Linked DNA regions of Homo sapiens. The protein of the gene in region 1 interacts with the protein of each later gene in a biochemical or structural test. Each region holds a gene or a part of one and is shown on either strand. Other genes may lie near its edges.

The links.
Region 2: the proteins of RANBP2 (region 1) and OPN1LW form a complex in vitro, tested with the Homo sapiens proteins (one study listed by BioGRID).

Annotation. Positions count from the first base shown.
Region 1 is NC_000002.12:108,778,482-108,781,981, forward strand, and holds part of RANBP2 (E3 SUMO-protein ligase RanBP2), read left to right. Parts: intron 1-2,787; coding exon 2,788-2,948; intron 2,949-3,500. UniProt on the Homo sapiens protein: E3 SUMO-protein ligase which facilitates SUMO1 and SUMO2 conjugation by UBE2I. Involved in transport factor (Ran-GTP, karyopherin)-mediated protein import via the F-G repeat-containing domain which acts as a docking site for substrates.
Region 2 is NC_000023.11:154,142,863-154,147,042, forward strand, and holds the start of OPN1LW (long-wave-sensitive opsin 1), read left to right. Parts: upstream 1-1,380; 5' UTR 1,381-1,421; coding exon 1,422-1,533; intron 1,534-4,180. UniProt on the Homo sapiens protein: Visual pigments are the light-absorbing molecules that mediate vision. They consist of an apoprotein, opsin, covalently linked to cis-retinal.

The DNA of each region.
Region 1 (3,500 bases):
TTCTCTAATGTCTCAAAGCTTGCCAAATTAATTATTCACTTACAGTAACATTACTGTAGGCCCAGTTATGACCTGTGAGACCCAGATATTGATATATTACAAATACTTTTACAAGTGGGTGATTCTAATGTGTTCCCAGGGTAGAGAACCACTATTTTGAAATAATTTTGAATTCTTCTGCCACATGTCCCTTGGGGTTATTTTTTAAATTTTTGCTTTTGGCAAAAAAGTTGCTGAACAATTTTGTTTTTGTTTTTGTTTTTGAGACAGGATGTCACTCTGTTGCCCAGGCTGGAGTGCAGTGGCATGAACACAGCTCACTGCTGCCTTGACCTCCTGGGCTCTAAAGCAATCCTTCCACCTCAGCTTCCCAAGTAGCTGGGACCACAGGTGTGTACCACCATGCCTAGCTAATTTTTACATTTTTTGTAGAGACAGGGGTCTCACTATGTTACCCAGGCTGGTCTCAAACTCCTGGGCTCAAGCAGTCCTGCCACCTTGGCCTTGCACAGTGCTGGGATTGTAGGCATGAGCCACTGCACCTGGCCCTGAACAGTTATTTTTGAGCCCCCAAGTTGGTATCTCATCCAGATCAGTGGTTACTGTTCTCAGGAAGTTCCCATGCAACCTGTGGCTTTTGTTCTCAGATCATTCCTTTGCAATATGTCCTTAAGAATTTTTGTCTTTCTGTCTCTTTTTTTTGAGACGATCATTCTGTTGCCCAGGCTGGAGTGCAGTGGCGCAGATCTCAGTTTACTGCAACCTCTGCTTGCTAGGTTCAAGTGATCTCCTGCCTCAGCCTCCTGAGTAGCTGGGATTACAGGCATGCACTGCAACACCCCGCTAATTCTTTTAGTATTTTTAGTAGAGATGGGGTTTCGCCATGTTGGCCAGGCTTGTCTCGAACTCCTGACCTCAAGTGACCAGCCCGCCTCGGCCTCCTAAAGTGCTGGGATTACAGGCATGAGCCACCACACCCGGCCCTCTCTCCTCTTTAAAAACATTTTTTTTTCCCCTCCATTAAATCTGTCTGAAAGAGAGTTGATTTTTTATTGTGTTCTTTAAGGTACTGAGTTATGTATCCTGTGACATTTTTTCTTTTTCATGAGAGTTTTTAGCAGAAGGTGTAGGGTTCTTTAAGACAGTGATTCAGCAAGTGATAAAAAGTTGAGAGGTGTTTCTTTCCTCTAAGATAGTGGGGACTTGGTCATCTAAATTGAGGTATGGGATGGAGAAGTTTCTAGTTTTCACCTTCTTGCAGGTATGCGAGAGTGAGACCATCATTGTTCCCCCATACAGAAGTAGGATGCTTAACAATCTAATACCCTTTGGGCAGTTGAAGTCAGTGAGATTCTCCCAAGGCTGCTTTCCACCAGCCCAACCAAGAAATCTACATTCCAGCATTAGCTTCTTCAGGAAGAAGTAGAGATGCAGAAATTATAAACATGTTTAGGCCATTGTGGCTAATTTGGAAGTAGCAGGTTTGGCCTGCTGAGCTAAGTTTACAAAATTTCAAGGTGGGTACTTGAAATTTTAGAAGTAGGTAAAAAGAACCTACTTCTTTACTTGGAAGTCCTTGTGTAGTTTAGTATTAGGAAGTTTATCCAAGGCAGTGACAGTCTTATCTTTGTATCGCTAAGCATAACAATAATAAATGTACTCTGTACTCAACAGTATGAGTTGAATTTACTAGCTTTTTTTTTTTTCCTTTTTTTCCTTTTTTTTTTTGGTGACAGAGTCTTGCTCTGTCACCCAGGCTGGAGTACAATGGCACGATCTCTGCTCATTGCAACCTCCGCCTCCCAAGTTCAAGCGATTCTCCTGCCTTAGCTTCCTGAGTAGCTGGGATTACAGGCACCCGCCACCACGCCCGGCTAATTTTTTTTTTTTTTTTTTTTTTAAAGACAGAGTCTTGCTCTGTCGTCCAGGCTGGAGTGCAGTGGGGCGGTATCTGATCACTGCAACCTCTGCCTCTCAAGTTAAAGTGATTCTCCTGCCCCAGCCTCCTGAGTAGCTGGGATCAGTCACCCATGACCACACACTGCTAACTTTTTTTTTTTTTTTTAAAGACAGAATCTTGCTCTGTTGCCCAGGCTGGAGTGCAGTGGGGCAATCTCAGCTCACTGCAACTTCTGCCCCCCAGGTTGAAGCGATTCTTCTGCCTCAGCCTCTCAAGTAGCTGGGACCACAGGCGCATACCACCACTCCCGGCTTTTCTTTTCTTTCTTTCTTTCTTTTTTTTTTTGAGACGGAGTTTCACTCTTGTTGCCCAGGCTGGAGTGCAATGGTGCCATCTTGGCTCACCGCAACCTCCGCCTCCTGGGTTCAAGCGATTCTCCTGCCCCAGCCTCCCGAGTAGCTGGGATTACAGGCATATGCCACCATGCCTGGTTAATTTTGTATTTTTAGTAGAGACGGGGTTTCTCCATGTTGGTCAGGCTGGTCTTGAACTCCTGACCTCAGGAGATGCGCTCACCTCGGCCTCACAAAGTGCTGGGATTACAGGCGTGAGCCACTGCGCCCAGCCTAATTTTTGTATTATTAGTAGAGATGGGGTTTCACCATGTTGGCCAGGCTGGTCTCGAACCCCTGACCTCAGGTGACCTCGGCCTCCCAAAGTGCTGGGATTACAGGCGTGAGGAATTTACTAGAATAATATAATTTTAAACATTTAAAATTGATGTACATATTACATCATCAGGAATTAGAGGGATTGATAAAATAAGAGGGGGATGAAAAATGTAAAAAATAGATACTAGTGTTTAAATATCCTGATTTATTCATCAGATAAAAATTTCCAATGGGCAAATACTGGAGCAGCTGTGTTTGGAACACAGTCAGTCGGAACCCAGTCAGCCGGTAAAGTTGGTGAAGATGAAGATGGTAGTGATGAAGAAGTAGTTCATAATGAAGATATCCATTTTGAACCAATAGTGTCACTACCAGAGGTAAATGTTAAGGAATTAACCTTTTACTAATAACTTATTTTTCATTTTTAAGTTTTACCCTGGCTTGATCTGTCAGGGTATAATTGTTTGCATTTAAGAATGTTTACTGTTTGAAATGGAAGCTCTATTTATTAGATGTCTAGCCTTTAAGTATAAATTATCTTTTTACAGTTTTTACATAAATATTGGTTTGTAAATTCTATATGTAATTATTGGTAAGAAATAATTTTTTCTTATGTTTCTAGAATATCATGTTTGTTTTTATAACATGATTCTGGGGAAAAATTAACCTCATACTCACTAAAGTCCTTTCAATAAATGTTAACCTTGTATGTTTTTTGGACAAGAACATTGTTCTAGGAAAATTACTTTGTCATTTTTTAACCTCAGTCAGTAGCTAATATTTCTCTTCAGTAGCAAACACTTTTGAAACCTCTCTGTCCTATAAAGAAAAGCATTTAATTTCCAAAGGGAAAATGAATATTATATAAAAGAAAATGTTTAATGATAAATCAGGTCTTTACTCCCTCAGCCAAATCAGATATATTCCTA
Region 2 (4,180 bases), on another chromosome or scaffold:
GCTCTGTTTGTATTCATGTACGGGTTTTTGTGTGGACACACATTTTCAAGTCTCTTGGGTACACAGGTGTAGAAGTGCCAGAGTTGGGGAAAAAGCTCACCTTTCTAGGCTGTGAATGGGCCCTGGCAAGTCTGTGGCCAGGACTCGTCTTCTCTTCCACATGGGGCCCCTAGCTTGGCACCTAGCACGTGGCAGGCAGCGACAGATGTTAAAAGCCATTCTTGCTATGGGTAGCCAGGCTGGGGCTCCATGCAGCCCTGGCCTTCAGCTTGGCAGCCAGGGCCCCCTTGTGCCTGCAGCAGAAGCCATGCTGCCAGGAGTGTAAGTGTGAGCCAGGAATGCTGGAGAATCGTGGCTCTGAGAACAGGGACAAGAGGCCACAAGCTCACGCCTTGGCTTTCCTAAGCTTAAGGAATAAACCCAAAAGGAGGTACCTGGAAGGAGCTGGATTTGGGGACTGAGGAGCTGGGAGCTGATGGAAGCCGTGAAAGGGGATGTGCTCCTGGGGAGGCGCTGGGGCGGGTGGGCCGTGGAGGGGACAGGGCCCGTTGGTTGGAAACTGAGGCGAGGCTACGGAGTTGGGCACTAACAGGTCATCCGTGCCCCTGCGAAGCGTGGGGACACAGGGACAGCAGAGATGGCCTGTCTGGACACTCTGTCGACGGGGGGCCTGTGGTTGGTGAAGCCCAAGGCAAGGCTGTGAACTCAGGGCAAGGGAGACGTGAGCAGGCGCTGCCGTGGGCTGATGTGGGCACTGCATGTGCACCCTGGCGGCCAAAGGACCTACAGCTCATGGGGGGCAAGGGGGAGGAGGGAAGCCAACAGCAGGATGTGCGCAGTCAGTCTGCCCCCCCTACACTGGAGGAGGAGCCCCCCGGCACAAATCTCGCCCGTTTGGGCCCACGGACATGGCTGGCCTCGCAAGGAGGATCCGGTTCCAGGCCTCGGCCCTAAATAGTCTCCCTGGGCTTTCAAGAGAACCACATGAGAAAGGAGGATTCGGGCTCTGAGCAGTTTCACCACCCACCCCCCAGTCTGCAAATCCTGACCCGTGGGTCCACCTGCCCCAAAGGCGGACGCAGGACAGTAGAAGGGAACAGAGAACACATAAACACAGAGAGGGCCACAGCGGCTCCCACAGTCACCGCCACCTTCCTGGCGGGGATGGGTGGGGCGTCTGAGTTTGGTTCCCAGCAAATCCCTCTGAGCCGCCCTTGCGGGCTCGCCTCAGGAGCAGGGGAGCAAGAGGTGGGAGGAGGAGGTCTAAGTCCCAGGCCCAATTAAGAGATCAGGTAGTGTAGGGTTTGGGAGCTTTTAAGGTGAAGAGGCCCGGGCTGATCCCACAGGCCAGTATAAAGCGCCGTGACCCTCAGGTGATGCGCCAGGGCCGGCTGCCGTCGGGGACAGGGCTTTCCATAGCCATGGCCCAGCAGTGGAGCCTCCAAAGGCTCGCAGGCCGCCATCCGCAGGACAGCTATGAGGACAGCACCCAGTCCAGCATCTTCACCTACACCAACAGCAACTCCACCAGAGGTGAGCCAGCAGGCCCGTGGAGGCTGGGTGGCTGCACTGGGGGCCACCGGCCACCCACCTGCCCCGCCCAAGGGAATCTCTCTTCTGCACGTCCCCACCAGCAGAGAAGGCTTTCTCCCATAGCTTTTCTGATGACATGAATTGGGGGGTCCTCTCCAAATCTAGAAGGACACCATAATATCGAATATGCATTCTCAAGCCACACAGGCTTCCCAGCCCCTTTGAGAATCCGAGGCCGGGGAAGAGTTTATGTGCTCTTTCTTTGTGGCCCGTAGATGAGTGTGTTCACTGCTAGCGAATGACCTCTCATTCCACGGAGTCCCTCAGCTTCCTGGGGAAGAGCTGGGTCTGTCTTTACATTTGAAGCCGAAAGGAGGCAACATACTGACACACCCAAGGGAGGCGGGAGGGTGGGGAAGACAGCAGCAGAGGGCAAGAAACTTCTAGAACTTCAGGGTCGGCAAAGCCTGTAGCAGTCATTTTGTCAAACTCCATGATGGGGCCACTTGGCTTTTGGCTGCACACCTCTGGGGGAAGAGGCTGCATTGGCGCCCAGGGCCATCTTTCCATTCGGAGCCGTCCTGGGAGAGAGGGCTCAGGCCCAACAGAAAGCTGAAAGCTCTCATCAGGGCAGCCCGAGTCCTGCCATTGGGAGTTGCCCAATCCGAAAGTTTTGCACGCAGGCCCTCAAAGAAGCTGAGGACACCAGTGACCGCCCCACTCCTGGCCCTCTCCCCAGGTCCCTCCTCCAAACCAAATTCCTTTGGTGCCTTCAAGAACATCGTGCAGGCCGGGCACAGTGGCTCACGCCTGTAATCCCAGCACTTTGGGAGGCAGAGGCGGGCAGATGACGAGGTCAACAGATAGAGATCATCCTGGCCAACATACTGAAACCTCATGTCTACTAAAAATGCAAAAATTAGCTGGGCTTGGTGGCGCATGCCTGTAGTCCCAGCTACTCAGGAGGCTGAGGCAGGAGAATCGCTTGAACCCGGGAGGTGGAGGTTGCAGTGAGCCGAGATCACGCCACTATGCTCCAGCCTGGCCACAGAGTGAGACTCTTGTCTCAAAACAAAACAAAACAAAAAACAACAACATCGTGCAGGCTGTGGTTTCCAGAAGCCACGCCAGCTCCTTGATTGCCAATAAACATCCCGCTGTGGGGTGGCCAGGACCGAGTGCCAATTAGTGACAGAGTGCCCAGACCAAACCGGATGAGGATCTTGCAGTTGACCTCAACATGACTGTGCCCAGAATTTCCTTGGTGGCAATGTCAACAGTCTCTTCCTAGATGCCCCCAGACTTCATCAATGCATGATGCTTCAGTGCACTCTTTTCAAATGTCGGGGTGGGTTTTTTTTTTTTCCACAAAACTTCAAGCATCTACTAAAGTAGAGGGAGGAGTGTAATGAACTCCGGTACCCATCACTCAGCTTCCACGGTTTCATCTCATTTCATCTGTGACCCCTCCACTACCCTTTCTTCCTGATTCTTGGAAGCAAATCCAAGACATCACACCCTTCCCTCTGTAAATCTTTACTATGTTCCTCTAGGAGAAAAGGGCTCTTCTCAATACATAACCACAAGTCATCATCACACCGACAAGTGTAACAGTATTTCCTGAATAGCTTCAAATATCCTAGTAGTGTTCAAAAAATGTCATACGTATTTTCAGTCTGCTTGAATCAGGGCTCAAATAAGGTCCACACATTCAGATTGACTGATATGCCTTTTGACTACCTTTGAATCTAGAGGTTCCCTTTCTATCTCCCTGCAATTTATTTGTGGAAGCAAGCAAGTCGTTCATGACGTAGCCTAACAGGCCCCTCTGACGTTGTTCATTATGATTTTTCTGTAAATTGGTAGTTGATCTGAGGATCTGGCCAGAGGTAGGTTGGATTTGTTGGTGTGTTTTGGCAAGGAGAGTGTCTCTTTTCTGGGGTGTTGGCAGCTACTGAAACTCAATGCCCAGACCAATTAAACCACTGGGGATGGAAAATGACGGCATTCGGACACCTTACCCTGCCTTCACCTATTGGTGACCAAAACCTTAACATCTTCACAGGTCTTCTTACCCTGAGGGTATATGCCACTAGGTTGTGTAGTAAACCGGTGTGTTTCCAGTCCCTTAGAATAGTCCCTCTCTAAGTGATATGCCACTCAGTGGATATGCATTTAGCTTCATTTCTTTTGTTGCTGATTTTCAGAGATTGCTCTGTAAATTTAAACTTTTATTTTACTTTATTTTATTTTTTCGAGACAGTCTTACTCTGTCGCCCAGGCTGGAGTGCAGTGGCGCGATCTCAGCTCACTGCAACTTCCGCCTCCTCGGTTCGAGCGATTCTCCTGCCTCAGCCTCCCGAGGAGCTGGGACTACAGGTGCCCGCCACCACGCCCAGCTAATTTTTTTTATTTTTAGTAGAGACAGGGTTTCACCATGTTGGCCAGGCTGGTCTCCAACTGCTGACCTCAAGTCGTCCGCCCACCTCGGCTTCCCAAAGTGCTGGGATTACAGGTGTGAGCCACCGCCCCCGGCCACTTAAATTTTGTTTTATAATTATGTAATAAAACAGTTAAAAGTCTCAAATTAAAATCTAGAAAAGAAGGTGTATTTGAAGAAGTCTGGCTTCTCTGCGCCACCACCGAC